Regions from separate parts of the Homo sapiens genome. Here region 1 is linked to region 2. The links come from fine-mapping of genetic effects on gene expression. A gene starts in region 2. The other region holds a variant in brackets. All regions are shown on one strand. Distances are between the middles of the regions.

Region 1 (16,587 bases), 42 kb after region 2:
TTCTCACCATTGATTGTAAATATTTCTTTTTATGTGTGAGACTTTTGTGGCTTTCTCATTTTCGCTGGGGGAATGTAACAAGAAGCTCAGTTTTCTTTTCAAAAATAAAAATGGCACTGAGTGCGGTGGCTAATGCCTGTAATCCCAGCACTTTGGGAAGCCAAAGTGGGAGGATCGCTTGAGCCCAGGAGTTTGAGACCAGCCTGGGCAACATAGTGAGACCCGTCTCTGCAAAAAAAAAAAAAAATTTTTTTTTTGAGATGGCGTCTTGCCCTGTCACCCAGGCTGGAGTGCAGTGGTGAGATCTCTGCTCACTGCAACCTCCGCCTCCGCCTCCCGGGTTCAAGTGATCCTTCCACCTCAGCCTCCTGAGTAGCTGGGATTACAGGTGTGTGCTACCACGCCCAGCTGATTTTTGTATTTTTAGTAGAGACAGGGTCTCACCATGTTGGCCAGGCTGGTCTCAAACTCTTGACCTCAGGTGATCCACCTGCCTCGGCCTCCCAAAGTGCTGGGATTACCAGAGTGAGCTAACACAACCGGCCTACAAAACATTAAAAAAAAAAAAAAAAAAGGCATGGTGGCATGCACCTGTAGTTGCAGCTACTCAGGAGGCTGAGGTGAGAGGATCGCTTGAGCCCAGGAGGTCGAGGCTGCAGTGAGCCACCTTCATGCCACTCCAGCCTAGGCAACAGAGTGAGACTCTGTCTCAAAAAATAAAAAAATAAAGATAAAGACAGTCAAATGTCATATCAATGTCTCTGAGCTTTCATTTTATTCTGCTTTGCTCCATGCAGAAGGACTCACTGCCTGCTCTTTTCTATCTACCTTCCAGAGATTGTTACAGCATTAAGGATAACTGGTATATTTTGTCTTAGCAAACCCTACATGAACTCCAAAGAACTCTTGAGAGTAATCCTAGACCATATGTCTAACTTTTATTAGTTGCACATAAAAGTCATCTATTGGGACCCTTAAAGGCCTCCTTTACATTAAAATAATAGCAGGCTGTATACCCAGAAAAAAGACTTGACAAAAGTGATGACCACTCACACCCACACTTCTGTGTTCTGTGTGGACCAAGTCATCATGTAGAATGAAGGCATAATCTTAGCACTCCCTGAATGAGAATGTCTAGTCTTTAATAGTTTCAGGTGGGCAGGAACATTGAAAAAGGCAACTCATAATTAACTTATGAGAAAATCCTTCAAAATGATAGAAGCTAATCATCTACCCTTTTCCAGTCAAGCAAATTAAATTTTTTCCCCATGCATATCTCTAAATTGCAATCCTGTACAAGGAAATTATTGAATCTAACCTTAGGCAGTGACCATCTTTTAGCGCTTACACTTAAGCAATAGATCTCCAAGAATAATTTTGAGACTGACTTCATTCCTTTTGAAGAATGGTTTGAAATGGGCCTCATGCTGGAATCAATTTTTTCAAGTGTATTTGAAAATGAGTAAGGATATCTTCTCATAGTAGATGAGTCTTCATTAGTAAAATACACATTGTATGGTTTCTATAATTATGGTATCACATTTTCTCCAGTAAAATTGCCGGTAGGGAGAAGAAAGTTCTTTGAGATGATGTATAGAGTCATTTCTTTTTTAACAATTGGAGACAGCTAGAGCAGAAGCTATTTTAGAACTCAAATTTTAACACCTGAAAATGCATATGAGTTAATGGAAGAATTTAGTTTATTTGTAGGAAAAAAACATAATACATTTCTCTGAGATTGCTTAAATGTTTTTTGAACCAAAACAAATAATATAGAAAACAAGGAAACCAATTAAGGAAAAAAATAACCCACAAAAGAATGGCTGGGAATTATCTCTCATGGCCTTTATTTTCTTCATATTAGATCTCCAGAAATCTATTTGAATTAATTTTGTTATCATTTGCTAAATCACTGGAGGCCATGTCTACACTGCCAAGAGAAAAAAGTTCAAAAACTCATTTCAAACAGCTTCCTACCAAACCAGTCGGGGATATTCTATACAGTATACCAATATAAAAAATACAGAAGAATTATTTGTTCTGATCCTATTCCAAATTATATAAGTTGATAACCAAATGTTACCATTGGAAAACGTCTTGGAACTATTTAAGTCTTTCTATTGCACTTTTTCTTCCAACTTTAAAAGACAAAATTTTAAAATCTGACCCCAGCCCTTGTGATTGTTCAGTATATAATCAATGGTATCTTACAAGGACTATTTTATTTGGAATCAATCAAATTTGTTTCCTGCCAACAATAAGTTAGATTGTTTTTTGCAGTTCTCAAGTAACAAATATGAGGACCGAACTCTCATTCAACATCCAAGCCCTTGCAGTTTGTGCAAATATATGTTTAGCAACAAAGTAAGTAATACAATTCCTTTTTCTGTTATTTTTCTATGTTCATGAATTGAATTAATGTTTTCAGTATGTCGCTGTAGGACATTGCCAGTATTATTTTATACTCCAAATAAATGACTCTCCTAGCTGTCTATTAAGATAAACGTGTATTGCTTTCTTCTATTCTGATTCTAAATAAATCAATGATTTCAAGAAATTGAGCATTATATTACATCTAAGTAGACAGTCATTTGATGTCCTAAACTTCAGGTTTGATCCCTTAACTCTGCTATAACCGATTATTATTGCTGATTTTAAAAAGAAGCAATAATTTAAATTCCTCTGATGATAAAAGTGATCCGATGACAAAAGAAACCCTGAAAAATGTAGCACTGTAAATCTCCATTAATTTATTCATTTATGATCTAGTCTGTTGAATGCATTTGTATGTAAATGTATATTTGTACATTTATCTATAGTTTTGTTTACTTGACACAAACATTGTGAACATTTTCTCATACTATAAAAATACTTAAAATCATTTAAATGTCTATATAATAGAACATTCTATGACCACAGGAGAATTAATTTAACTGTTCTTCTATTGAGAGGTCTTTAGATTGCTTCCACTTTTTCCACTATTATAAGTAATAACAAAGCATTTTTATGGATTAATCTTTATTTACATTTCTGGTTATTGCTTAAAGATTTATGCCTGCATGATAAATAACTGAGTCAATGATTATTAATATTTTTAAGGCTTCCGATATAGATATTATCAAATTAAATTTTCTGAAGGATTATACTAACATATATTGTCATACCACTGCACACCAACATTGAGAGTTATCGTTCTTAAATCTTTATTATTTCAAGCATGAAAATGTTTCTATTTTGCCTGTATTTGATCACTTCTGAAATTTAACAAAATCAGTAGTTTGCATTTCTTCTGTGAATGTTAGCTTTATATCCTTTACTGCGTAGTCCCAAGTTGTAGTTCAAATTTATTATTATATTTTGGTTATTTGTTTCAACTCAGATTTTAAAAACCGAAATCTCTCTTTGCTCCTAGTTAAAAATGGAAAGTTTTTATAGATCTAATAGTTTAAAGTCCTGTGATATTATATTTGACATTCATGTATCTAAATATTTTAGACATATTTTTATTATTTTTTGTAGGGACAGACAGAATCCATCATTAGTATGGCTTTTTACTGGAATGTTTTGCATTTATTCATTGTTCTTTGCTTGGAGAGCAAATTTAGATATTTCAAAACCACTTTTCATGGGTGTGGTAAGTTTTACTTAGATATATCCTTTGACCAGAAAGTTTGTGAAGAATGTGCAAATTTGCATTTCATAAATCTTGTAGAAGGGCAAATTACTTGAGGAATAGTTAAAATTTTATATACATTTTTATAAATCAAAGTTGAATTATTGAGTCAATACAGCTAAGGCCTCTTTTTAGGATAAAAAGAATGCAGTGTTTAACACAGTTGTTAAATAGAAAAGTAAATGTAAAGTAGATTTAAGTCATTGTATGTGTGTGTGCTTGCAAATATAGGTACAACTGCATTTCTCCTGGAATTTTTTTAACAGCAAAAGAAATATGAATTGTAATTGAGGGCACTTAACAACATATTTCCTTATTTCTTACCTCCCCAGTCCCAGGCCTAGGCAAAAGAGCAACCGTATTTCTGTTTTCTTTGGCAGCAGTCTCTGAGATTAGAGTATTTCTTCTACTTACAATAGATTCTCTGTAAATGTCAATAGCACTTTTTTGACAGCTGAAACAAAGTCTGCGTATGTGTGTGTTCAGGAAGCCTAATAAATAATACCCTACTTGATCACCTGAGTTCTGAATCAATTGAGAAACAAGGTAATACAGTACAACGGGTGGGAGAATCACTTTTATTACTGATAATACTGAGATTGGAAAATGCAGCTTATATCTGTAGCCAAGGGGGCTTCCTCTTCCAGCATCCCAGAATAGACAGATTTACCCACTAGTCATAGGCAGTGCTGTGCAGGTCAGGCCTCTTCCCTGTCTCCCCCACCCCACTGGTGCCACAGAGATAGACTCTAGCCCTGGACAAGTGCTTCCTGTGGGTAGCTCACTTCCAGGAGAAAGTGAGATGAAAAGGGAGGGCGCTGCAGGCCCAGTCCCAGCTCCCAAACTCCCCAGTCAGATCAGTCCCTACATCCTATAGGAGGAAATACGTGAGGGGTCAGAGACAGGCCAGGACAGTGGAGCTTCTCCATGTGGAAGGAAACATCAGGAGTAAAGCAAAAGCATTTCTCTAACTCCTTCAGCCTGTATATTACTGGAGTTCAAGACTAAGGCCACAGTATTGAAATGAATGTGTGGATCTGAAAAGGGAGATGCACCTGTCAAACTGGGAAGGAAGAATGTTTGAAAATAGAAAAATAAAATGACCTGGGCTTGGATTGGGGAAATCAGTTAACAAAACCTGAATGACAACAGGCACACACAACTAGGTGCATGCAGCATATTTAAAAAATATATGAGGAGCTGATTGATAGCATTAAATAGTCAACTGGACCCACTGGTTGCATGTCTCTTTCACAGGTGGAACGATTCTGGATGCAGAGCAATGCAGTAGTGGCCGTCCTCGCTGGCATTGGTTTGGCTGCAGTTGTGTCTGAGACTAACCGAGTGCTGAATAGCAATGGGCTTCAGTGTCTGGAATGGCTTTCTGCAACTCTTTTTGTAGTTTACCAAATATATTCTAATTACAGGTAATACATGGTTATTTTTATGAAAAGTAGCTGTCAAGCCAGAGATACCTGAATATTTAGATTCTAACACTTTATTTCATTGTTAACTTCTGGTTTTCAAGACTCAAAGTGAGACAGCTTGGTTGAATGCAGTAGTTCTTTAACTTTTAGGGTCGTTAAACCTAAAAGTTAAAGCATGGGCGATGAATGGTTTCAGGCCATTGCAAACAAGGGTTTAGGTGGTGCGTGTAGACAATTTGTATCTTTTTCTCTTAAGAACCCAAGAGATACTTTTAGAATCCCTAGTATAGGTAAAATTCCATGACCTAAAATACCACTTAGATGGAGAGTAAAATGATTTAGAGTTTTTTGTATACCCTAAAATAATTCACTTTATGCTTCCCTTTATGTCCAGTTTACTCTGTAGTAGTAAATACTAATTTTTTTGAGACAAGGTCTTATTCTGTCCCCTAGGCTGGAGTACAGTGGCATGATCGTAGCTTACTACAGCCGTGAAATTCTGGGCTCAAGCAGTCCTCTGCCTCAGCCTCCTCAGTAGCTAGGACTATGGACACATGCCACCATTAGCATGCCTTTTTTCTTTTTTTTTTGTAGAGACAAGGTCTCACTATGTTGCCTAGGCTGGTCCTGAACTCCTGGTCTCAAGCAAGCCTCCCTCTTCAGCCTCCCAAAGTGCTGGAATTAACAGGTGTGAACCACTATACCAGCCTTAATTATTTTTAAATTAAGTTCTAAAGTTTCTTAACTCATATATTATTAGTATTACATGTATTTTTCAAAAAATCTGTTTAATAACCATTACAATAAAAATCTCAGTCTGACATAAAAGACGTCTAAGTCTTAGACTATAGTTCGTTTATTTCCAGCAATATCAAGTACACATTATGGAAATGGAAGAGAGTCCCTTGGAATTTTGCTATAGTGAGATTGGACTGGTATTATTTTAAAGGATTACATTTTCTCTTTTAACTTAACTTTAAAAACCAATGTTCTTACCATTCAACCCTGCAATCTTATTACTGGGTATATACCTAAAGGAATATAAATCATTCTAACATAAAGACACATGCATGCGAATGTTTATTACAGCGCTATTCACAATAACAAAGACATGGAATCAACCTAAATGCCCATCAGTGGCAGATTGGAAAAAGAAAATGTGGTCCATATACACCATGGAACACTAGGCAGCCATAAAAAGAATGAGATCATGTCCTTTTTAGGAACATGGATGGAACTGGTGGCCATTATTCTTAGCAAATTAACAGAGGAACAGAAAACCTAATACTGCATCTTCTCACTTATAAGTGGGAGCTAAACGATGAGAACTCATGGATACAGTGAGGGAGAACAACAGACACTGGGGCCTACTTGAGAGTGGAGGCTGGGAGGAGGGAGAGGATCAGAAAAAAATAACTATTGTGTGCCAGGCTTAATACCTGGGTGACGAAATAATCTGTGCAACAAACCCTGTGACGTGAATTTACCTTTATAACAACAAACCCACACGTGTACCCTGAACATAAAATAAAAGTTAAAAAAACCCACAACATTGTTCTTTATAATACTGGGGTAGAGCTGGTGTTAGGAAGGCCACCAGGAGGCCTTGAGAGAAGGGGCTGCGTGTCCTGGACACAACATCATCGCTAGCTCAAGAAGGTGCA[C/A]CAAGCCCACAGTGTGTTTCCCAACCTTTTCTTATCCCAGTCATCTCCTGGCTCAGGCCATTAGGGCAGTCCAGGTTCGACACCAGACATATTTGCACAGGCTAGGTGTTTTTATCTTGTTTTGATTTTTTTTATTTGTCCCAGGGGAATGGAATACATAGCACTTTTGCTAGGTGGCAAAATGTGCCTCATCACTCTGCAACATAGGGAATCAGGTAGGAAACAGTAATTTTTACATCAATTACAAAGGCAGGGATAATATTCTGTTCCTAGAGGTGTTCATTTGTTTTGTGATACCCCAGATATTCTCAGCTCCATCAAATGTAATGGACTTGGTAATAACAGAAAGGACATTGCTTGTCTCATTTTTTGATACTAATTACTGTTTTGTCATCTTTTTCTTTTTTCATAGAATGCTGTCAGAATTCATGCCAGTTTTTCTTTGAAGTTAGAAAGTTAACTTCATTCTTGAAAAGAATGAAGTTATTGGCAATAGCAAATAATGCCTGGAGAGAAGTAAACAACTCAGGAAACTCGTCCTCCCCTTGCTTCTCATTGGTCTCATTCCCTAGCAATTTCTTGATCTCCAAAGGCAGAGAGGGACACAGGAGGCCTGTGATTCAGGGGAGAAGTGGAAAGGATCAACCTCTGCATGCAAGAAAATCATACAAATGCCATACAAATTCAAGTCAGAAATGGGCAGATTTCCTTTTGCATTTCTGAAAGTTCCTTTGAGTAAATGGAATGAACATAAAATTGCCTTAAACTCCAAGTGGAATCAGAAATCTTACTTTCTAAAAATAAAATTGGATTGCACTTAGGGGGAAAAAAGGACCTATTCTTGTGTACTGATTCCCTTTTTCTGGAAATGATTATAAACTCCAGAAGTAAGCAGTAGACTGATTTTTTTTCAATTGCACAATTAGCTGCTGCTTATCAGGTGATAGTATTCTCTCTTCAAATATACATATTATTTTAGAATGTATTGAAACACTAAATGTTGATTGTATGATGGGAAAAGAATGGCATAGAAAATAAGCCTAGTCTTATTAAAACTGTAGCAAAGTGTTGCTATTTTAATTTTTTTGGATCCTTTTATTTAGTGTTTGTGACCAAAGGACCAACTATGTGATTGATAAGTTCGCAAAGAACCTTCTCACCTCTATGCCTCATGATGCAATTATCTTACTCAGAGGAGATTTGCCAGGAAATTCTCTCCGTTACATGCATTACTGTGAGGGGTTGAGGCCTGACATTTCATTAGTGGATCAGGAAGTAAGTATATGAAAAATATACTTAGAATATAGCGATGATTTAAAAACATATGTTTTGGAAAAAACATCTTTTTTAAAATGGTGGACGGGTACAGTTTTCATGATCACTGTTAGGTAGAATATATATGACATTCTACATGTTAGGTAGAATATATATGGGCATACTTTTTTTTATTTTAACTAATAGTGTAAGTCACACTAGTTGCTTCTTTCTCATTTAAAAACATTTAAACTGAACGTTTTAAGAATTAATGTGTTTCATGTTAGATTCATAATGTTTTAGGTCTCTAGTTCATGTGACAAACCATAAAAGTGTTTGTTGTATGGTAAATCTATTTTTAAATTGTTATTTTACATTCAGGCCGGGCGCAGTGGCTCACGCCTGTAATCCCAGCACTTTGGGAGGCTGAGGCTGGCGGATCACGAGGTCAGGAGATCGAGACCATCCTGGCTAACATGGTGAAACCCCGTCTCTACTAAAAATACAAAAAATTAGCCGGGTGTGGTGGCACGCGCCTGTAGTCCCAGCTACTCGGGAGGCTGAGGCAGGAGAATGGTGTGAACCTGGGAGACAGAGTTTGCAGTGAGCCGAGATCGTGTCACTGCACTCCAGCCTGGGCAACAGGGCGAGACTCCGTCTCAAAAAAAAAAAAAAAAAAAAAAATTGTTATTTTATATTCAGCTAACTCAACCATTCAAATTTACCTTGCCCATTGGTCCAGGGATTAAAATAAATTATATTGAATATGAAATAAATCATACTGTAGGTAAGTAAACATTTCACTCAAAATAGAAATTATTAACCATAATTATGCTATAGAATTTTTATATAAACTTTCTTAATGCTGTGACAAAAATACATTAAGAGAGGACTTGTGAAAATTTTGAGGGCTATGAAAACTTTTTTTTTCATTGAAGAACTATTTAAACTAAGATTTATTATTTAAGCCATAGATACATAAAAGGGAAGAAACCTGTCTCTGGTGTTTTTAGAGCAGTCATTAGGAAAAGAGAAATTCTTAATCTTAAAAGAATAATATGATGAATTCAATTGAACAAATTATTAGGCATAGTACTTAATGCACTTTGTTGAATTAATGAATAATTATAATTTTTGGAGAAAACTTTATAAACAGATTTGTAAATATACAATTTTACATTTTTATAAGCAGTTGCATTTATATCATGGATGCCGATTGATTAATTTGAACTTCAGTCTAGATTCTGACAAAAGCTATGTTATTTGTTAATAACATGGTTCCACACTATGATTTTAAACACTGTTTAGAATGTCAGCTCCTGTAGTTGAGAAGCATGGATTAGAAAGTGAATTAGACCTAAACTCAAGTCCTCATTCTGTCACTTCCTGGATATGTGACATGGGGCTAATGATTTTTCCTCTCAGAGCTTCTGTTCCCTTATTTATGAAATGTAAGTCATCATTATGTAAGTTAGGGTGCATTTGAATGCAAGAAACAGAATACCTGACTTAAATGACTGAGTTTTTAGCCTCACATGAGACGCAGTCTGGAGATAGGTGATGTTAGGATTGATAATATGAGCAGTTCAGGGACGTCAGTTTCTGAGGCAGTTTTTCTGCCATTCTCTTGACTTTTCCCTCCCAGTCACAGGATGCATGCCCAGTTCCAAACATCACAACCTAAAACAAAGCACAGTGCTTCTTCTGGGGTATCTCCCTCTCTCTATTTATTGGAAATAACATGTGCCCCAGAAGCCCCCCAGCAGACCTCCACTCAGGCCCCACTGACCAATACTGAGTCATATACTCACACCTAAACTGCTTATTAGCAAAGGAGAATGACTAGACTGAGAACATTGCAGCCTGAGCTACCTGATCAAAATGAAGATTGCATTAGTGAAAAAGAAGAAGGTATTCACTGTTGAGTGGGCAATCAACAGTGTCTGATACAGTTATTCTCACATAGCAAGGTTATTTTGAGAACCAAATGAGGAACAGTAAAGTCCATAGCACACAGTGGGTATGTAATTAATATTAATATCCTCCAGAACCAGAACTATTGGGTAATAAAGCCTAATTCAGTAAGTATTTTTTGAGTATTTACAGTTTAGACTTAGATTAAAATTAATTTGTCATTTGCTGGGTAATGTCTTACATAAGACAAGTAAAACATAAGCACAATTTCTCAAATGATGATATCCGAACATAACAAAGCTTTGGTGGTGTTAATGGGAGTCTCTTCTTTAAAAAGAGGGAATGAATACATATCAAAGTATAGAGTTAAGTATGTGTTAAGTATAGAATTAAGTAAAATGATTTTTTCTAATATAAGTAAATTATTTAAATCAAAAGAATGTGTAAACTTGTAAGGATATGTAATTAATATAGGGCTACTAATAAATTCAGATAATTTGAAATGCCAAAAGAGTTTTTAACTTTGAGGCCTAGATTATTACATGATTGAGCTTCTCCAGGGCAGGGATTATATCTTATTCATTATAGATGAGCATACTTGATTTTTTTAATGAATAAAATAATGGCTATTTTGTCTAGGTTGTCTAGTCTGGCCATCAAAGGCATTTCAATTTCAGCAAACATGATTTGAGAACTGGCCAGGTGTGGTGGCTCACGTCTGTAATCCCAGAACTTTGGGAGGCCAAGGCGGGTGGAGCACTTGAGGCCAGGAGTTCGACACCAGCCTGGCCAACATGGTGAAACCCCGTGTCTATCAAAAATACAAAAATTATTCTGGTGTAGTGTCATGTGCCTGCAATCTCAGCTACTTGGGAGGCTTAGGTAGGAGAATGAACCCAGATGGCGGAGCTTGCAGTGGGCTGAGATCATGCCACTGTACTCCAGCCTGGGTGACAGAGTGAGACTGTCTCAAAATAATAATAATAAATTTGAGAACCGTTCTATGCCAGGCAGTGTGCTAGGTGCAGATACACAGAGATGAAAAAATACAGTGCCTTTTTTCTAGGAGCTCACAGTCTGGTGAGGAACAGGCTCTCATAGAGGTGAGTACAAAGTACTAGAGGATCATGCCATTCTGGCTATGGAGACAGAGGAGGGCATCAGAGGAAGTGATATTTACAGTGGTTCTGAAAGTTGAATACACGTTCTCTAGGTCAGTGGTCCCCAACCTTTTTTACACCAGGGACCGGTTTTGTGAAGGACAGTATTTCCACAGACTGGGGGTTGGGGGTGGGGGTGGGGAATGGTCTCGGGATGAAACTGTTCCACCTGAGATCATCAGGCATTAGATTCTCTTAAGGAGCATGCAGCTTAGATCTCTCACATGTGCAGTTCACAATAGGTTCACACTCCTGTGAAAATCTAATGCTGCCACTGATCTGACAGGAGGCAGAGCACAGCAGTAATGCTGGCCCCTGCTGTGCGGCCCAGTATGGGGACCCCTGCTCTAGGTATAAGAATGGGGGAAGGTCCTTCTGGGGAGTCAAATGCGGGAGGTAAATTGGAAGAAGGTACTGATGTGACTGATGATAGTCATAATAAAATCCAAAGTTTACATCACTAAAAAAGTAATCAGTACCACATTCTCAGTTGTGCTTATATTTTTCAATTATATATATATTAGGTTGGTGCAAAAGTAATTTAGGTTTTTGCCATTACTTGATAAACTTGATTCTTTCTAAGAAATATATTAAAAGTCTGACATTATGTGTGACTTTTCTGGCAGATGATGACTTACGAGTGGTATTTACCCAAGATGGCAAAGCACTTGCCAGGTGTCAACTTTCCTGGGAACCGGTGGAATCCTGTGGAAGGAATATTACCTAGTGGAATGGTCACATTTAATCTTTATCATTTTCTTGAAGTAAATAAACAGTAAGCATTCTTTTTATATAATAGCTTTTCTAAAATCTTAAGCTTTTCTAAAATTGTTTCTGTAGCAGTTGTGCATCATCCAAAAGACCAATTTTCTCTGCCTATTTCCCTGTCACTGGTGAGATTATCTTTGTAATTAAATTGAATATCTGTGCATAAATGAGGCCAGGCAGAAATAAATGTTATTGTTTTGGATAAAGGAAAAATACAGACAGATTAGCAAGAACAGCAAATAAGATCTTAGTACAATTCACAGAAATTGGAGATGTGCCTGCCTACTTGAAATCATTGCAGGTGGATGGCAAGCAATTATAGTTCCCCTGATCAACACTATGGCCCCCCTTTTAAGTGTAAAGCAAATGTTTTCAGGAATAATCACTATATAAAAATAGCTTAAGAATTTTTATAAAGGATAAGACATTTTTATAAATAAGAAAAACACCTACAGTTTATGCTAGCTGAGATAAAATATGAGAATTGTGAATTCTATACTTGAGAACATAAAATTATTTGTAGTTAGGTCAAGAATAAATAATTCCTCCGATGGCACAGTGTTGAACATTTCTTCTGCCATGAAGTGCTTGAGATTGTCCAGAGCTTGAAGAAGAAACACTTATTTCATGATTTATTTTTTCTTATAAAGAAGACTTCAGAATGTCTTTGTAAATCCCAAAGTTAAATTATCCCTTGCTAAGAACATAATAATGTGGTATTTTGGGTGTTTAGAGCCTGAAGTTTATATGGCTCGTGGAGTAAACGACAGTAATGGTTATAAATGCGCTGTGAGAGTAACATTTAATTATTCTATTCTAGATAAAATATTAGGAACCATTAACATCCCCAAGTTGGCATTTTTGTGAATTTTCGAGAATTCAATCCCACAAGCATTTACTGAATGTCTACTATGTTACAGCTTGTATTAGGCTCCAGCAGTAGAAAGATGAATGGGACTCAGTTCCAAATCCAAATAGAACACAATCTAGTTGTATACATACATAGATGTGAATACAACTAGCCATAATTTGGTGGGATAAGTTCTATACTATCAATGCCTTGTAAAGTGTCAGACATAGTATATACTCAATAGGTGTTTACTGAATAGATAGATGATTTAACTGACAACATATGCCAAGTATTCTGGCAGCATGGATAAGGAAGCCATTAATTCTGTTTGGGGACATTCATTCAGCATTTATTTAATAAAAATTGCATGTCCAAAATGTTCCAAGAACAATATGATGGAAGTATCGTATGCTCTTTGAGGAAACTCTAAACAACACGGAAAAGTGTGAAGACGATCAGTATCATCTGTCTCCCAAGGACAGCTGCTGTTAATATTTTGATAAATATTGTTGGATTCCACTCACCTTTAACATAAATGACTTATTTTTAAAACATACACATATTCATACATACTGTATTATATATAGCTGAGATATCATTTTCTGTCCAATTTTTTTAACCTACCATTATATCATAAGCATTTCCCCATGTATATTATTGTCATTGTTGGCTAATATTCTCATAAGACGCATAATAATTTAACGAATATTCTATTTTTGGGATATTCTGTTTCTAGACTTTTGCTCTTATAATATACAATTATGATAAACATTCTGCCCCATAAAGTTTTGTTAATGTTTTTGACTAACAAAGATCACTGCATAAATATGACTTATTTAATATCAGTTTTTAAAATAGTTTTTAAATTTAAAAGTTTCATGTGCTTGTTACAGAATGAGAAATGTTTTTAAAAACTGGAAGAAAACAGGGTCCTATTCACTCAGAAACAACACATATATAAAAAATGCATATTTTTTACAAAGGTGAAAGCATAAGTGTCCTGTTTTTTATATTTACTATCATAAAACAATTTCCTTATGTTTTTACAAACTTTGTAAATACATGTACTGTAATTTAAAAATAATAAGCAAATAAAACTATTAGGAGATATTTAACATGATCTAATTTTAACTATAATAAAATTATACCTACAACAACTGCTTTTGTATATGTAGGGTTTTTTGTGGAGGGGCAGAATTTTAAATTATTAGTATAGATTCTCAGAAGTAAAATTACTAACTCAAAGGACATGCATTATTTAAAGGCATGTGATAGAGATATTTTTCCCCCCCAAAGGGATGGACCATCATCATATGAAAGTTATCTAAATGCATACCTCTGAAAGGAAGCTAGCTAATGTTTAGTGAGCACCTGTTATTTTAACATGCAGTAATATTTACTTTTCTTGTTAGGGGGTGTGGTATACAGTTCTATGAATTTTAACCCGTGTATACATTTGTGTAACCACCACAACAGTCAGGACACAGAGCAGTCCATGATTCCATAAATTTTCTTGTGCTGCTCCCGTATAGTCACACTGTCTCCTCAGGCCTAACCCTGGCAACCACTGATCTGTTCTTCATTATTATAGCTTTACCTTTTCCTGAGTGTCATATAAATAGAATCAAAGTATGTAACCTGTTGATATTGGCATATTTCACTTAGTGTAGTGCCTTTGAGAACCATCCTAGTTGCTGTGTATATCAATAGTTTATTCTTTTTGTTTCTAAGTAATATTTCATTGTATGGATGTACTGTAGTTTGTTTATCCATTTACTCATTGAAGGACAGTTGGGTTGTTTCAAGTTTGGGGCATTTATAAATAGAGCTGCTATAAACATTCATAAACAGGTTTGTGTGTGAGTATGTTTTCTGCATAGGGTTGGGATTGAGTTGTTTTCTTATTGTTGAGTTTTGAAAGTTCTGTTTATATTCTAGGTACGCAACCTCTGTCAAATATGCAGTTTGTAAATATTTTCTCGCAGTTGCTTGTCTTTTACAAGTGTCTTTTGCAGAGCAAAACTTTATTTCTTTGAAGCTCAAATTCAATTTTTTTCTATGAATTATATTTTTGGTATCATATCTAAGAACTCTTTGCCTAATGCCAGATCACAAAGATTTTCTCATGTTTTCTTCTATGAGTTCTATAGTTTTGTTTTTGTGTTTGGATGTCAAATTGTCCTTATACTCTTTGCTACAAAGATTATCCTTTCTTCATTGCATTGTATTTGTACTTTTCGCTGTCTATACAAATGAAAAAAAATCTTCTGGGGTTTTTTATTGGTTTTAACTTAATTCGTGTTTTTGTGGTTTATCTTTTTTCATCCTTTTGTTTCTAACCAACCTATATCATATTTAAAATAGGTGTTTTATAGACAGCATATATTTGAGTCTTATTTTACTATCTCAGATCTCTATTTTTAATTGCTATGTCTCCACCATTTGCATTTAATATAAATATTGATATGTTTAGATGTATGTCTACTATTATCTTTTTTTAGATTAGTTGACTTTTTGTATTTCTTTTTTTTTTTTCTTTTGAGATGGAGTCTCACTCTGTCACCCAGGCAGGAGTACAGTGGCACAATCTTGGCTCACTGCAACCTCCACCTCCCAGGTTATAGCGATTCTCCTGCCTTAGCCTCCTGAGTAGCTGGGATTACAGGCATGTGCCACCAAGCCCAGCTAATTTTTGTATTTTTAGTAGAGATGGGGTTTCACCATGTTGGCCAGGCTGGTCTTGAACTCCTGACCTCAAGTGATCCATCTGCCTTGGCCTCCCAAAGTGCTAGGATTACAGGCGTGAGCCACCACGCCTGGCTGACTTTTTGTATTTCTTTTAAAAATGTTTATTGAGATTTTTTACTATATCGCTTGGTAAAGTTTTTGTTTTTGTTGTTTTTTTTTTTTTTTGAAGCTGGTTGCTGTTGAGATTACAGCATCCATACTTAACTTTTCATGGTATACTTAGGAGTAATAATTTACCACTTCAAGCAGAATGTGATAACCTTACTGTCATATAAGTCTTTTACTTTTTGTGTTACATATTATGTCAGATAGGGTCGTTTTTATTTCAGTTGTCATACATATATTAAAGAACTTAAGAGAAAAAAATATTCTACAATATTTATCAGATACTTACCAGATCTGTTGTTCTTTCTTCAATCCTGATATTCCACATTTTCCTCTTGTATGATTTCCCTTCGTTCTGAGGATATTCCTTAAGTATTTCTTTTAAACCAAAACTATTAGCCGTGAATTCTCTTAGTTTTCCTTTATCTGAAAATGTCTTTATTTCATCTTCCTGTTTGAAGGATATTTGTGGAAATAGATTCTGGGTTGATAATACTGTTTTCCTCAGCATTTTAAAAATGTTACTTTAGGCTGGGCACAGTGGCTCATGCCTGTAATTCCAGCACTTTGGGAGGCTGAGGCAGGATTGCTTGAGCCCAGGAGTTCAAGACCAACCTTGACTACATAGGGAGACCCTGTCGCTACAAAAAAATAAAAATAAAAAATTAGCTGGACGTGGTGGTACACACCTGTGGTCCCAACTACTTGGGCAGCTGAGGTGGGAAGATTGTTTGAATGCAGGAGTTTGAGGCTGCAGTGAGCTATGATTGTGCCACTGCACTCCAGCCTAGGCAACAGAGCAAAACCCTATCTCAGAAAAAAAAAAAGAAGAAAAAAAAAAGTAAGTTAATTTTTTTGGCCTGTGTAGCTTCTAATTAGAAATCCACAGTAATTCAAATAATTGTTCCCCTAGGTGAAATCTATTGTTTTTCTCTGGCCATTTTCAAGACTTTTTATTTGTCTTTAGTTTTCAGCAGTTTGATTATGATATATTTTAGCATGGATTTCTTTGCGTTAACTTGTT
Region 2 (16,587 bases):
AGGTGGATCACCTGAGGTCAAGAGTTCGAGACCAACCTGGCCAACATGGTGAAACCCCGTCTCTACTAAAAACACAAAAATTAGCCAGGCGTGGTGGGGGCACCTGTAACCCCAGCTACTCGGGAGGCTGAGACAGGAGAATCGCTTGAACCCAGGAGGCAGAGGTTGCAGTTAGCCAAGATGGCACCACGGCACTATAGCCTGGGTGACAAAGCGAGACTCTCTCTCTCTCAAAAAAAAAAAAAAAAAAAAAAAAAAAGACATTGTTTATTGACTCCCCAGTGTCAGAGTTCATTGCCACTATCCTCACCTTCACTCCTAATTTTCACAGTTGTTATTTTAACTAATTGTTTACTTTTGTGCCTTTAAATAATATTTCTTTTTATGTGATGTCTTAGAGTTTTGTTTAGAAAAAAATGGGTTTACTAAAATTGTGAAGATTACTGACAAATATCAGACTATAAAACTGAGTGGGTTTTTTTTGTTTTTGTTTTTGTTTTTTTTGGCCAAAGATCTAGAACAGAATTCATAAAGTTTATGTCTGAAAAGTAAATTGGTTTTAGGAGAGAGTTTAGTACTCGATTACATTAGATTACCACAAGGAATTTTGAAAGAAAATTTACTTTCCTTGAGTAGAAAACACTTCCACATAATCACTTATATTAAATGGCACTAAAAAGATGCAGGAAAATTCGTGAGTTATTTCATGTCAACTCAGGGTAATATTCTAGTTAGTATTCATTACAGGCCAGGCGTAGTGGCTCATGTCTGTAATCCCAGCCCTTTGGGAGGCCAAGGCGAGTGGATTGCTTGAGCTCAGGAGTTCGAGACTAGCCTGGGCAACATGGCGAAATCCTGTCTCTACAAAAAAATACAAAATTTAGCTCGGTGTGGTGGCACGTGTCTGTAGTCCCAGCTACTGGGGAGGCTGAGGTGGGAGGATCACTTGAGCCTGGGGAGGCCGAGGTTGCAGTGAGCCATGATCACGCCACCACATTCCAACCTGGGTGCCAGAGCAAGATGGTGTCTGAAAAAAAAAAAAAGAAAGAAAGAAAAGTATTCATTACAATACTGTCCATTAGATAATTCCAGAATCTTCCTTCCTAGCTATTTTGAAAAATATGTGATATGTAGATAGAAACGTGCATAAAGCATTTTTAAATGGTTTAAAGAATAAAGAATACACCCATGTGACCACCACTCAAATCAAGAACAGAAATATTGACAGTACGTCAAAGCCCATATGTACCCCTCTCCGATCATAGTTCCCACTTACTTACCTGCAGAGGTACCATTAACCCAACACCTGCAATCTTGATTTTATTTTCTTTATAGTTTTAAACCCTATGGAGATATATATAGAGAGATATATGATACAGTATACAATTTTTCAATGAATACCTATTGTTTAGATATACATTGTGCATATATAGCATATATAATATTATATATACACAATATATATCTAAACAATATAGTTTAGTTTCACTATGGCTCACACCTGTAATCCCAGCACTTTGGGAGGCCAAGGCAGGTGGATCACCTGAGGTCAGGAGTTCGAGATCAGCCTGGCCAACATGGTGAAACCCTGTCTGTACTAAAAATACAAAAAATTAGCCGGGTATTGTGGCACACGCCTGTAATCCCAGCTACTTGGGAGGCTGAGGCAGGAGAATCACTTAAACCCAGGAGATGGAGGTTGCAGTGAGCCTAGACCATGCCATTGCACTCCAGTCTGGGGAACAAGAGTGAAACTCCATCTCAAAAATAAATAAACAGACAAATAAATAAGTAAATAAATAACTACAATCATTCCACATGTGTTCTATCATAACTTGTTCCTTTTGCCCAATATTTTGTTTGTGAGAATCACCCAGATTGTTCCATGGTAGCTAGCTATAGTTTGTTCATTCTCTTTGTTGTATACTATTTATTGTATGAATATGAGAGGATTTATTTCTCTATTCTGCCACTGATAGATGTTTGAGGCTGTTCCTGTATGGGGGCTATTATGAACAACACTGCTATGGACATGTTGTACGTGTCTCCTGGCTTCTCTGGGTGTAAACCTGGAGTGGAATTACTGAGTGGCAGACTCTAAACACCTTTGACTCTACTAGAAATGCCTGTTTTCCAAGTGGTTGGAAGTGATTTCCAAGTGGTTATACTCCTGGTAACATTTCTATTGCTCCAAACACTTGCCAACATCATATATAGTTAGACTTCAATTTTTGCAAACCTAGTAGGTGTGTAGTATCTCATTGTGGTTTTCATTTGTATTTCTCTGATTACTAGTAAAGTTAAAGATGTATATGAATATTTACTTACAATTAATTCTAGGTCAAATTATATGAATATCTTTATAAATTTTTGATACACATAGATACATTGACCTCCAAAATATTATACCAAATTCCCTTATCACCAATCCCCCATATCTATTAAATACCTTTGACAATTGGAAAGGTGGAAATGGCATTTGTTTATTTTTATTTCAAATTCCTTTGGTTACTAATACATTTATATGTTTAAAATTACTATTCTGAGGCATTTGTCAGGGATATTTGTATCTCTTGCATTTTCCTATTGTAGATGGATTACCGGATGGTATTCTAGGCATCCAATTTCTAGTCTAAAGTTGCTAACCTTAAATTTCACTGATATTAGAAATATTAAGACATTGACTTTATATCAAGTGGGATTTGGGGGAATTAGACATCTAAATTGTAATTTGTAGGTGAATTTCAGTGCATTAATGTCTGTGAAGCTACTCTGAATGCTCAGAATAAAACAAAGAGGAGTGACTTTTGCTTTCAGAAAGATGAAATAGGTATTTTTTTTGAATTCTTCTTGCTAAGTACAACTAAACACACTGGACATTATATATAAAACAAAGATAATAAGACTTCAAAATGTGAAGAAAAAAAGGCAGTTGAGGCAGGAGCTCTGAAATCTGAAGAACAACAGAGTGGTGAGGTCCCTGGACTTCTTTTTCCCCCTTATATCACAGATTGGTTGCTAAAGAAGCTAGCAACCCAGAGATGCCAATGGGCCCAGACAAAAAAAAAAAAAAAAAAAGCCCCAACAAAAAGCCTCGTCCCTCTAGCTAAAAGACCAAGAAAGGGGCAAGACAGATACATTTAGAAAACAATCACTCTACTGTAGCCAAAACCAAAGAATAAACCATGAGGAAGGCTGAGTGGGCAGCCTAGACTTCTACCCTCTCCAGGTGCCTCCACATGCCACCAGGGTCATGTCAAAGAAGGCAAAGGAAGAAGCCAGAACTTTCATTCTGGTTGGGTGGTAATGAGACCCCTCTTCTCCATGGTGGCAGTGGAGACCACGTGGGGATCTTTGACTTCCACCCCTGCCCAAAAAGAATGAGGTCCCCCTTTCCCTCCCTTCTGGGGTAGTATCAGAGGCAGCCTAGTGAGAGTCAGGACTTTCACCACTGTCCAAGGAAAAGGAGGCCATCTCCATACCCCCATAACCATGTGGTGCTAGTGGAAACCACAAGTGGAATAGTGACGAGGACTCCTTTACCTTGCAGCAGGGAGGCAGCAGTAGAGGCCCGGCAGGTAGGTGGAATGTCCACCTCTGCTCAGCAATAATGAGGAGCCATCTCCTTGGTTTCAACAGAAGCTAGATGCTGGCCATAAATCCCAGGAAGACTCCCAGAGCCAAATTTAGGGTACCATAGGGCCATGGATCTATGTATTTACTTTCCGTCAATCTGATGTTCTATATCTAATTGAGTGTTCCCTGGCCTCTGTGATGTTCTTCGAATGTGTCAACTTGGCTTGGCTACATTCCTCAGTTTTTCAATCAAACACGAATCTTGGTGTTGCTGTGATGGTATTTTGTAGATATGACTAAAGTTCATAATTAGTTGACTTTTTTTTTTTCTCCAAGCAGAGTCTTGCTCTGTCACCCAGGCTGGAGTGCAGTGGCATGATCTTGGCTTACTGCAGCCTCTGCCTCCCAGTTTCAAGCGATTCTCGTGCCTCAGCCTTTTGGGTAGCGGGAATTACAGGTAAACACCACCACACCTGGCTTTTTTTTTTTTTTTTTTTTTTTTTGTATTTTTAGTATTGATGGGGTTTTGCCATGTTGGCCAGGCTGGTCTCGAACTCCTGGCCTCAAGTGATTCTCCCACCTTAGCCTCCCAAAGTGCTGAGTTTACAGCCATGAGCCACCATGCCCAGCCTCATTTGTCTTCAAAACCGTGAGATTATCATAGTTAATCTGGTAGGCCTGATTCAATCAGTGGAAAGGCCTTAAGAGCAGGGATATGGGTCCCCTGATGAAGAAAAACTTCCAGCTGTGGACAACAGCTTTCTGCCATGCCCAGGAGTTCCAGTCTTCCCTTCCTGATGGCATGTGCTACGGGCTTCAGAGTTACTTAGCCAGCCCTCAAAATTACATTATACAATTCCTTGCAATAAATTGTATCATACATATCTCCTACTAGTTCTGTTTCTCTGGATGAATCCCAAATTATTTACATATTTTTCTGCTTTATGGTTTGTATTATAGTGGCTAACTCTAAGCCATCATAGAATGATGTAGAGCACAAACAATAAATCAATACTCGTTATATGTCTTATTGGTCTGTCTCAGGATCAAGTCCAACGATCACATGTTTACACATCATGTGTAAAGAGAGACATCATGAGGTCTCTCTCTTTATCTCTAACATTTTCTATCTTCAACCCTTCTCTTCTGTCCTCCTCAGTCCCATCCTCTCCAATAACCTGTACATCTTTACTTCATCACTATGTCTCTCCAAATACTCCCTTGAGTTACAAACAAAACAAGACATTCAAAAATCTTCATTTGACACTTCGATCCCTGTGAATTTTCATGCTATTTCTCTCTTTCCCTTCACTGCCAAACTTTTTGCAAATGTATTTTATTTTCATGTCTTCCATTTGCTCACTTCTTAGCCCACTAGTACCTTGTTTCTGTAGATACTACTCTACTGAAGCTGACCTCTTGAACTTTCAAGGTTCAAATACCTCCAGGTCACCAAATCCAACCATGCAGAGCCTGCTAGTTGCCCCTCAGTATCCATTCTCCCCTTCTTCCTTTGTAATAGAATTCTAGGCAAACTGTCCAGCTGAAAAGTCTATTTCGCAGCATCCTTTGCCCCTAGGAGTGACCTGTTATTCAATTTTGGCCAATTAGATATAGCAAAATTGTGGAATAGCATTTAAAAAAATAGTGCTTTTTTAAAAAAGCTGGAGCAGGCCTTTCTCTTCCCATCCTTTCTTTTTCTTCCTCAAGAACAGATGTAATGTCTGGAGCATTAGCAGCCACCTTGGATCAGTAGATGACCTTGAGAATGTGAGCTGAGTGGGATGGTGCAGAAAGATATGAGGACTTCAGCTGTGTCCCTAGTGGAATCAGGGAGTTGCCAAGCCAGTGGTAGACTGACTTCCTATAGACTTCTGACTTCTTTTATATAAGAGAATGATTGTTTTAATGTTTAAGACACTGTAGCAGGATCTGTCACTAGTAGCTAAATGCAATCCCTAACGGATATGCCAGTGATCTCTGATTGTTCATGTATTCATTTATTACATAAATATTTGTTTAGCACCAATTTTGTGCCAGGCATCATTTTAAATATGGTGGAAATTAGACAAAGTCCATCAGGTTTGACAGGCTATTTAGACATAGAAATGGAGAGGTCGGGGGCAGTTGGGTTTTTTAAAATAATCGGTCGCTAAAAAAGAGAAGCAGAGGAGGTCTAATTTTGAGAAATATTGCCCCATAGTTGCCCTTTAAAGCTTCAATATGATCATCTCGGGAAAGAAGACAGAAAGAGAGAAAAGTCTAGAACAGCCCAGGAATACTTCAGCATTTGGGGGACCGACAGAAGCAGAGCCAGGGCAGGGAGGCCATTGATAAAAGGAAAACCAAAGAGTGTGCTATCAATGAAGGCCAGAAAAGAAAATACTTCCGGGGAGGAAGGAATAGTCAGATGCTTACTGAGAGGTAGAGTCAGACATAAACAGAGAACTGGAAGTTCTTAATCTTCAAAGGAAAACAACCATGAAGCTAATGAAGCTTAGGCCTCACAGTTCCTCTCTAGCCCAGGTGTCTTCCAATATCTTGTGCCTAATTCTGTATCTGCAGTTTTATATCAGTTTACTTACATATAATTCTCCAAGTTTTATACACTTGAGCTTCACAAAATCTAGACGTGCCTCTCTTCATTGTCCTTTACCTCTCTGTAACATCCTGACCACATGTACTTCATCGACTTTTCTTCTTTAGCTTCTGGTGATGCCTCATTCTCTTACACTGTTCTCTCCCCTTCTCCAGCCATTCCCTAAATGAGAATATGGGCTGACATTAGACCTCAACCTTGTTCTCTCTACACTATCCCCTTATCAAGTTAGTCATTTATATCATCCTTACACGAGCAACTCCTAAATTTGTACTTCCAGCACTGATCTCTACCTCCCAAACATGGACAAAGAATTATTCCCCTCCAAAATAAAAAAATTTTAAATAAAACTCATGAGCAAAAGTGAAATGCATAAAAAGGGAAAGAAGTATATGCTTGACCCAGTCAAGGTTACTCATTGGCATGTTCTTTCAGCAAAGAAATAGAAGACAGCCTATCTTAACTATCTATTGCTGATAACTAACAAATTAGCCTGCATTTATCAACTTAAAACAACATTTATTATCTCGCGGTTTCTATAGGACAGCAGTCTGGATGAGGCTTAGTTAGGTCCTCTGCTTCAGGGTCATCCACAGGCTGCAATCCAAGTCTTGACAGGAGTTATAGTTATCTCAAGGCTTATGTGGGGGAAGGATCCACTTCCTAGCTCCCTCACATGGTGTTGCCTAGATTCAGTTCCTCTAAGGTTGTTGGACTGAAGGTCTCAGTTTCTTGCCAGCTGTTGGCTAGAGGCGGCTCTCAGTTTCTTCCCATGTGGACCTTTCCACAGGGCAGCCTACACCATGGTAGGTGGCTTCATCAGAGAGAACAAGTGAGAGGACAAGAGGGAGTGCCAGCAAGATGAAAGTTAGTCTTTCATAACCTAATCTTGAAAGTGACATCCATCACTTTTGCCTTATTGTATTGATAGAAGCCAATCCTTAGGTTAAGCTCACACATAAGGCGAGCAGCTTATACAGGAAGTGAGTGAGGAGGCAGGGTTATCTGGGAATCCATTTTAGAAGCACTCTACCACACAGCCCCTCTCCTCCAGGAACTCACAGTACAGCTGAGAAATTACCTGGAAAAGGCTGGAAATTGTATAAGTACCTGGAAAAGACTAAGGTGTGCTGGCCCCATGACCGTCAAGGTAGGTATATGTTACTCTATAGTTTAGTCACTGTGTCTCTATCAAATTGCGCGTAACACGTTTGAGATTGTCACTGGTTTTCAGTGTGTCTTTGAGATACATTTTATGCGGGTTGCTCTCCTCCCCGCCCACTCCAGGATAATTGCTTTAATAATAAAACATAAGCTTAAAAAGCTTAACTGCGCTGTTATGTAGTTGTCCTTATTAACGGCTCCGATTCTTTTTTTTTGCGTTACAGCTCATTGTAAAATATGGTGATTCAATTTCATTTTCCACTTTGCTGTGTTGAAAGCTCCAGCAAAACACTCCTCTTCATTAAACTAGGAGACACCTTTATCATGGTTTGAGTTATCTGCATGAATACAGGAACTCAAATTTCCCGACTCATCTACAGAGTTTTCATTATGCTATGGAATGAAAAAAAAAAAAAAAGACGCACTAGCATATTCTAATCTCTCTAAAAATTACTCAGTGATTTAATAAGTAGCACACAGACTTATTGTAATTAGTCATAGTAACGTAGTAAATCGTAATAAATACATAATTGTGATTAATGTATTTATTGGCTTACTTTGCACATACGGTAAATACACCACCCTTTTTTTTTTTTTAGCACAGGTAGGGGCTCCTGGCTGATCGTGGCCCTTTTGTGCAGTTCCACCCCGCACCGTAGGGGGCAGGAGCAGCCCTTCCTCGCTCGCGGTTTTCGACGCTGCTTTGGTCTCTGTCAGACCCAACCAAGTCAGTATAAAAGGGGGGAATAGCCATGGAGAAGGTAGGCCTGTGGCCGGGCTTGCTTTTTAAAGGGAATGCTCTCCTGGTGATTAGGAACCTTAAATCACATTATAAGTAGGTGAACGCCAATGCGTGGTGCACTGCGGGAAAACTCGCAGGGCCTGGCTCAAGGGAGGCCTGGCATTTTCTCCTCCCCGCGCTCAGGCGGAGAAAGGTGCGGTCCAACCCGCGGAGGCTCGACCCGGAAGCCGCCGTGGCCGCCGCACAAGCTGCGCTCGTCTCTCGGCTGGGGAGCTCCGTGTCGCACCGGGTTCTTGGGCTGGCCGTGTCCTTCTCCCTCGGTCGCCACTGGCCCATGAGTCCCCATGGCGACGGCAGGGGCCAGGCCCAGGGGCGGGCAGTCCGAGTGGGGCTGCGGCGCTCCGGGGGCATCCGCGGCGGCGTGGCGGTGTTCGCCGCCGTGGCCGCAGTGTTCACCTTCACCCTGCCCCCTTCGGTACCGGGGGGAGACTCCGGTAAAGTACTCGCAGGGTTGCCCCTTCTGTCCCTCTCCCCTGGTCCCAGAACGGGCAGGGTCTGCGTCTGGCCCCTGCTCTTGGCATTCGGTCTGGTCAGCTCTGGGCCTCCATCCACCCCCCTGTGCACAGCGCACTATTGTGTGTTCCAGAGCCCACTTCTGTTTCCATTCCTGTCGTTGTGGTTTCTTTAGTTCTCAGGTTTTCGAGATGGGGCGTATTGTTGGTTTCGCCTGGTGGGGCTTATCGACCTCTCCACTTCCCCAGATCTTTTATCCTGGTCCTGAGTATTTACTTTCAGTCTTTTTTAGTCCACAGATATTATTCACGGTGTCCTTATTATGTTTCAAACAAAAGAACAGTAGTGGCGAACAGATAATTGCTAGTGTTCCAGTGCGGTTAGACAATACACAAGTTAATGAATAAACAGCATATTCACTGGTGATAAGTTATGGAGACAGTAGGAGGGAAATATGATTGAGAGTGGGGGTAAGTAGTGGGTCCTTCCGAATGACTATTCAGGAAAGACCTCTGAAGAGGTGGTGTTTTAGTTGAAACCTGAATATTGAGAAGGAACTAGCCATGCAGAATATTTGCAGGAGAACTCTTAAAAAGGTGGAAGCCAGGTGCGGCTGTTTCTATGAAAAAGAAAAGCATGACTCATTGGCCCTTAAATCACACTAATTGTTTTGTATTTGATGCAAGAAACAAGATCCATGTTTTGTTTTTGGATTCAATAATGCCATATCATGGCCAGTAATTTTGTCAGAATAGTGCTGTAATTTCAGGTGGTGAACCTATGGACTGAAGAAGCAGTTTTTGCTGCATGACTAGTGATCCCCAAATTGAGCAGCTTAAACAGCAAACGTTTATCGTCTCCCGTTTTTGTAAATCAGGAGTCTGGGTGCCGTTTAAGCTAGATGCTCGTACTCAGAAAAAGGTTGCTGTCATGGTGTGCGATGGGGCTGCGGTCTTCTCAAGGCTCAATTTGGGGAGAAACGCAATCTAGTTCTTTGCTATGTGGGTCTCCATAAGTTAACTGACTTCTGTCAAGAAAAAGATGAAGGACACCTCTCTGTCTGACAGCTCTGTCATTTTGTAACCTAATACTGTAAGTGATATACCACTTCTGCATTTTATTCCTGGAACTTCGTCAGTAAACCCAACCCATATTCAAGGGGGAAGGATTACACAGGTGAGAATATCAGGACTTGGGGATTAGTGGGGATCATATTTAGGGCTGCCTACCACGTTGAAGATCTTTGATGTTACATCTTCAAATTGTTACCTTTCTTCTTTCAGGTCCTGTTGCACAAGTAGGGATAGTGTTTCATTCGTGTAGTAGGGAGTTTCTGTACAGTGTTACCAAGATTGGTATTTCATAATGGAAGTAACTTTATAGTTGTGAGTTTTGGTGCTGGAGAGCATTATTCAGAGGTTAGGTAGTTCTGTTACTTGTAAAAAAATAAAAAGATTGACAGCTACTTATGGTTGGTTGAGTGTGAAGGATGGGAGTGAGATTTATAATAACTGACGTTTGTTGGGCACTTACTATGTGCCAGGCACTGTTCCAAGTGCTTTATATGGGTTGTTGTTTTAACCCTCCCAGCTACCCTTAAAAGTAGGTGCAATTATTATTTTCCTTTTATAAATGGGAAAACTAAGGCTAAGCTATGCCCAAAGTCACACAAAGTAGAGAAATCAGGAAAAGAAAAGTATATTGACTTCAGAATATGCCCCCTTAACCTCTACTTTTCGTCAAAACATTTCATGAAATTCTTTTCTAAATCCACCATCACATATGTAGTGATGTTTAAAATTTATTTAAAATCATGATTATTGCCTTGCCTTTATTAATACTGTATTTTATTTTTTCCTAAAAGAATAAAGTTGTGTATTCACCTTGAGTTACCAAACTTTAGGTGCTTTAATTTTGTTTGGTTTGATGTTAAATAGTGGTTGCTTCTAATATTTTTATGTTCATTTTTGGGAATGATAAACTGTTTTCCAAGTATATGCCAATATGGAAAATTTGCTTTATCGTATATTTGATAATTGTGTTTACATGTTGAATGCACTATTCTTGAATGTTTATGAATTATATTTTCATCAATAAACAGAACACATCTCAAAACCAGTATAAAGCATGTATTCTTCTTCCTGATAAGTCTTACATTTTACTCCATAGATTCATCACATTGTGTCGTCTTGCCAAAATTATTTTTTGTACCACTTGACACACACAGTTCATTTATGGGCAGGGTGCTTGTGGTGCTTTTCGGGGAGGGGGTAGGAATCTGGCCTTCACTAAATTAGTTTGTACGTGAGTTTATTTCAAAGATACTGTCTTTAACAGATGTGATGTGTGACAGTCTAGTCTAATTAATATTGAGAAGTATGATATAAAGGGAGCTGGTTTTTGTAAAGGTTAAGCATCTGCTGACAACTCTGGGCTTGCCATTAGTTTGTATTGCAGACAACAAAGCCGTGGTTCTCAGACAGGAACGTACTTCAGAATTACCTGGGAAACTTGAGCCCCCAGTGCAAGTGGGTCTTAGTAGATTATGGAATTTGGAGGTGTGGGCAAGGAATCTTCATTTTTAAAAAGCAGGTTAATTCTGATGCAGGTAGACACAACTGAGGAACCTTTCATGTAAAGGGTTGGGAGAAAGCCAAGACTCGGGAAGCTCGAGGTTTTTTTACTATTCCCTTCCTCTTTATCACAATCAATTTAAGAGTAGTATTTCCCTTTAGATCTTTATCAAGGTTACATTTAGAGACGTTGAATGGGGACATCTTTTCTATTTCGATTTTAGTTTAACATTTGATAAGAATTGATGAAAGTTTGTCACATTCCAGATTTATCTTTATAGCAGCAGAAGTCTGGCAAATAATAACAGCACACTGACTTTTCCATGGTAAAAAGAAGTTAGAGAAAAACAGCCTATTTTTCTTAATGTTAAATGTAATTCTGAATACATTTTAAATGGAGGAGAATGAATAGTGACCTTTGAAATTTTGAATTTATGGTGGCTTCGTTACAAAAAGATTACAGGAACAAAAAAATCGAAAATAGTTTGGAGCTAAAGACTTAAGAGCTAATCCATTATGGAGTAAACTATAAAATCATATCCTTTACAGTAGTTAACAAAGGGAACAGTTGTTTGAGACATTGTGAGACCATAAACTATTTAAAAAGAAGCATTTAGGATATAAAATGTGCTGGTTTCTCAGGTGCTCTTGAATATCTCTTAACAAATGTCCTTAAGTAATTGACTTAATCTGTCTTCAGGTGCCCTTATAAGGCTTCCATGATGCAGTCACCTAAGACTGGGGTGTCTTAGTAGCAAGGATGACAATGTGATGTGTATTTTTGTTAACCTCTGTGTGTATGGCTTGAATTGATGCTTTGTGTGTGGCCAGAGGGGAGAGGTGGTGGTATCCTGGCACGATCGTGAAATGGATAGGATAATGTTTTTAAACTTAGTGGGAGAGAGAAATGAAAACCAACCAGAATATAAGGCCATCTAAAGTGCTAAATAGACTCAAGCAGGTTCTATGGAGGAGGAAGAAGTGATTAATTCTGATGGGGAGGCTGGGGAAGCAGGTGTCTAAGGAAAGGTTACCAAGAAGGTGGCAATTGAACTTGGCCTTGAAGGATTTAGGGGGAGAATGCTAGGGAAAATATTCCAGGGTGAGAAAATGAGTGAGAAGAGGTGCAAAAGAGGACCACTCCAGAGAAACAGTGGGTAATAAGATTTGACTGGAGGGAACATAGGTTTCATGGATATAAGCCTAGAAAAGGGACCTTGAAACCATAGAAAGCTTGAACGTCATGCTGAGGAATCTGAACTTCGTTCAGTAAGCAGAGAGCAGCCATTGAGAAATTTTAGACTAGGGATGCAATCCAGCCTTTTGTGTGTGTGTGTGTGTGTGTGTGTGTGTGTGTGTGTATGTGTTTAGGGGCATGGGGGAAGGCAGGTGTTGATTATAAGTGATTTCAGTATGAAGATGAATTGAAGTAGGATTGGTCAAGTCTGTTGCCATAGTCCAGGCCAGAGAGAGTAAAGGTCTAAATTGTAGCTGGGACAGAAATTAAATGCAGAGTATTGCTATCTATGAAAGGATAGGAAGTGGACAGTAGTACATTTCCTAATAGGTACTAGTAACTTTCATGAGTCATTCATCAATATTGATTCCTTACATTGTACGGTACTACAATGTACAGGGATGAGTCAGAAATAGTCCCTGTGCTCTGAATACGTAAAAGGTTAACAAATAGGCATCAAATTACTGCATCATAATTTTAGAAATAGTCACTAATGGTGAGGAACTATAAAGGACTATGTAAAGAATATTATTTAATGGTTTGAAAAAATGTCTTACAGTGAACCTTACCGAAATAACGTGGAGTTAATAAACACTTGGAAATCATTTAAAGATATCCAGTGCAATTAATGTGGAGAAGATACCCAAATGCCAGTTTTAGGGTAGTATGGGACATTTTATGGAGTGTCCAAACCTCAGATGTCTGCGCATTTTACCTTACTATAAGGTTGTATCTTTATAGACTTTCGTGCTAATTTCTTGAGGGATAATAAAGCATATTACACTAATGCTCCAACAGTATTTGTATATTTGCAAGTGGATACAACTTTCAAGAGGGAAAATAAGCATTTTTTAAAGACCAGAATGTACCTATATTTCCACTGACCACTTCTTAAAGACTATCAAAGATAGTTTGTTCAATAAGACCTAAAGGAGAAAATATTCTTAGACTATTTCATGCTGTTAAATCTCTACAGATTTACAGTTTTATCCAGTCAAATTAATGCAAAACCCCAATGCAAGCATTTGGATTTTGAAAACTTTGGAGGAGTGTCATTCTCTAATAGTAATTATTGGTTTTACATTATTTTTTCACAGGGGAACTGATCACAGCCGCACATGAGCTTGGAGTAAGTATTAGTTTTATTGTTTAATCAATGCTCTCATTAACAGTTTTAGGAATTAAGAAAGTTTAATTAAGCATGGAGTAAAGTAGATTAATTTATTTTCAAACCCCCGTTTTTAGTAACTTATAAGTACAGTACGTGACAATTTACTTTAAGTTTTAAATCCAATTAAACTAAATTATAAAGCAAAGCCTTTACTATATATACAGTAGCTGCCTTATTATCACCCCAAATTTTGTATAAGCTGTGGGGAATAAAATAAATCGGGTTAACAGTTTTAATAAGTTTATTATTTAATAAACTTTATTATGGTGCATGATCCCTTCAGGCAAGACCTTACGACTGTCAGCATGGTGGTAATCCGATAGCAGTGTGGTCTTTCAACTTTCTAACCAATACGATATTTCAGAACCTGCTTTTTTTCAATAGCCTTTTAAATGACCCTAATGTACTGTGAACCCAGAGAACAAACTGCTTAAGAACTGACAATGAAATATGTCACCCTTTCTCTGGGTGACGCACCATGTGATAGACGCTGCCAAATCCACTAAAGAAAATATTTATTTGTATTGCCTCAAGAGGATTACAATAGAAAACCACTATTCAAACATTTAGTCATTGGTGCCTAATCTTTATAGCTGCTTGAGAAAAGGGCTACTTTTCAATTAAGGCCTGTGGGACTCTTCCTTTCCTAGATGAAAACCTTCTAACTGTTGCTAATTTTTCCGTAGGTTGCCCATCCTCCTGGCTATCCTTTGTTCACGCTGGTGGCTAAACTGGCAATTACACTGTTTCCTTTTGGTTCAATTGCCTACCGCGTCAATCTTCTCTGTGGCTTATTTGGAGCAGTAGCTGCATCATTACTTTTTTTCACCGTTTTCAGGTAAAGTAGTTGATTAGTTAAAATTAATTTTGAGCAGTTGGAGATGTAGATTTCTTATGGCTCAAGTACATACATTAAAAAAATCTTTTGTTGCTTGGTTTCCCTAACACATGTGATTTCACTTTCTTAATTTATAATACTTTCATATGCATTTGACCCCTCAAATGATTACACAGTTGGTTTTGTTTCCTACAGTGGAGTGAAGGTGTCACCAGTTCATTATCACAGTTCTCTGATTAGGCAGAACTAATGAGGTTTGTCATTTTGTGAAGATGCAGATGGGCCAGTTTAATTCAACAATATGAGGTTCATCTTTTGGTAAATGGTAAATATCATTTAATTATTCACAGTATTGCTGACGAGCAGCTGCCTATCAGGTCCAGGGCTAATACCTAATTATATTGTATTCTAAATATGAACATGTTGTATACTTTCTGAAATAAGGATATTAACTAAGGAAATCAATTTGGGATGTGGTTTTAGTAAGGTTTCACTCTGCTCCGTTATGGCTGTAGTAAAGGTAGGCAAATTAGATCCCAAGTAATTCATTGATAGAAGACTTTCTTAGGTTGGAAGTCTACCCTGCTTTTAAAACATTGGTCATTAGTTTAGAATGCTGGTAACCCATTGTCTTTGATGTTCTGTCTCCTTCATTCTTAACTCAGTGCATCCTATACCTAAGAGGATTATAGTGAAAAATACAAATTACACTTTCTGCAAAAGGAAAAACCAAATTAAAACACTTCTTCTAAAAACTTTTGCATGTCTTACTATAAAACAAATGATTTCTGTAGGTAAATATAATTTGAATAGGTACAATTTCAAATGTCTTTTTTGGAGACCAATATTTTTATTTGTGTCAAAGTCATAATACTGCCCTTTAGCCAAATTCTAAATTCTCTTTTAATTATTTATAGAAAGATAAGAGTTAGTATAATTATAACTCTGAAGTTTACTTTTGATCTGTATGTGAAAAAACTTTCAGATTCAAGTATTGTAACTGTTGATCTTTTCCCAAATTGTTATATTATTAAATTTGTTATTTTAGTCTTTATGAAATATTTAAAATAATGTTTCTGCTTAGATTCATTAGTACTATTAATATTTTTCTTTTTCTCAATGGTTAGGATAATTTTTATTAGAATTGTTCCTTCTGAGTCTTTTGTAATTAATAATCTGTCAGTATTTCCACTGAGAGAAAAAGTGTTTTTTGTTTTTAAATATCTAGGTTGAATGGGAACTTCCTTGTTCTGTATTGAATGAGTATATTATTAATTTTCACAAGATACTTTAGAACAAAAACATTTAAAGAAGACTAATATATTCATTTTGATAGTCTGTATTTTAGATCATTTATGTAACATAGACATATATTTAAATGTTATATAGCTATAAATAGCTCTTTGTGCAAGTAAAGGGATTCATTTTCTAAAACTTTTCCATGTTTTTCAACATTATTAATTGTTGATACCATTCCATATGAGAACTACTGTAAGAATCGTAAATAAAAGTCTTAAAAATTTACAGAATCTGGATAGCTCTGGACAGTACTTTTCTTTAAAAATAGCTTTTATTAATTATTATGATTAATTATAATGGTTTAGATTAGCACACTAGCCTGTAACGCTTTTCTTTTAATATGCATGGCTAATGATATATTTTATACTTGCTGACATGTGCTTTAAATTGAATCTCTTAATATGACTAAATTAGGTATTTGAGTAGTTTTAATAATATAGTATGTGCTTTGGAAAAGTTGCTTTCTTTCAGAAAAGGGATCTAACAATATTATCTCTTACATAATTTTAATATGAAAATACTTCATTATTTTGAATACAAATAATTGACAAGGTACACGTCCTTTGGGAATAACCTAGTTCAAGTGGCAAATCTGTTTTGTCAAACAATAGACACCCTTCAAAAAGGAGAAGCCATCTCTATGGTAATAGGACTAACAGTAGCCTATTGATTGAGTGGAAGAAGACATTATACAATGTCAGCTGGCTTGTTACAATTTCATTTGTTGTATGACCTGAACTTAACCTTTAAAACCTTTCTTCTGTGAATATAAACCCAACAGCAGGACACAGTTTTTGTACAACCATTACAGTGATGGCTTTTTCCTGTTCCAGTGTACAATAAATGTGTTTCTTTGCAGCTTGACTCCCTTATCA

Direction of the effects. Positions count from the first base shown, and alleles are read on the strand shown. Sizes are in standard deviations (SD) of each study's normalised expression.
With allele C in place of A in region 1, the expression in unexposed skin of the gene that starts at base 8,299 in region 2 is higher (small effect, 0.14 SD a copy in GTEx).

What was found. PIP is the estimated chance that this variant, and not a neighbour inherited with it, causes the effect.
Region 1: its variant is the best candidate, but not a certain one, in a credible set for the expression of TMEM260 in unexposed skin (GTEx, PIP 0.74).

The regions. Positions count from the first base shown.
Region 1 is chr14:56,613,664-56,630,250 of GRCh38, forward strand. It overlaps TMEM260 (transmembrane protein 260), which reads left to right. Exons shown (of 16, transcript NM_017799.4): 8 at 2,281-2,364; 9 at 3,520-3,634; 10 at 4,931-5,100; 11 at 7,868-8,039; 12 at 11,719-11,867. Among named protein-coding and RNA genes, the nearest start is that of TMEM260, 42 kb to the left of the region's middle. The variant C/A (reference allele first, on the strand shown) is at 6,765.
Region 2 is chr14:56,571,500-56,588,086 of GRCh38, forward strand. TMEM260 (transmembrane protein 260) reads left to right here and starts at 8,299. Exons shown (of 16, transcript NM_017799.4): 1 at 8,299-8,575; 2 at 13,502-13,533; 3 at 14,262-14,413. The coding sequence starts at 8,416. RefSeq lists a silencer at 8,367-8,586.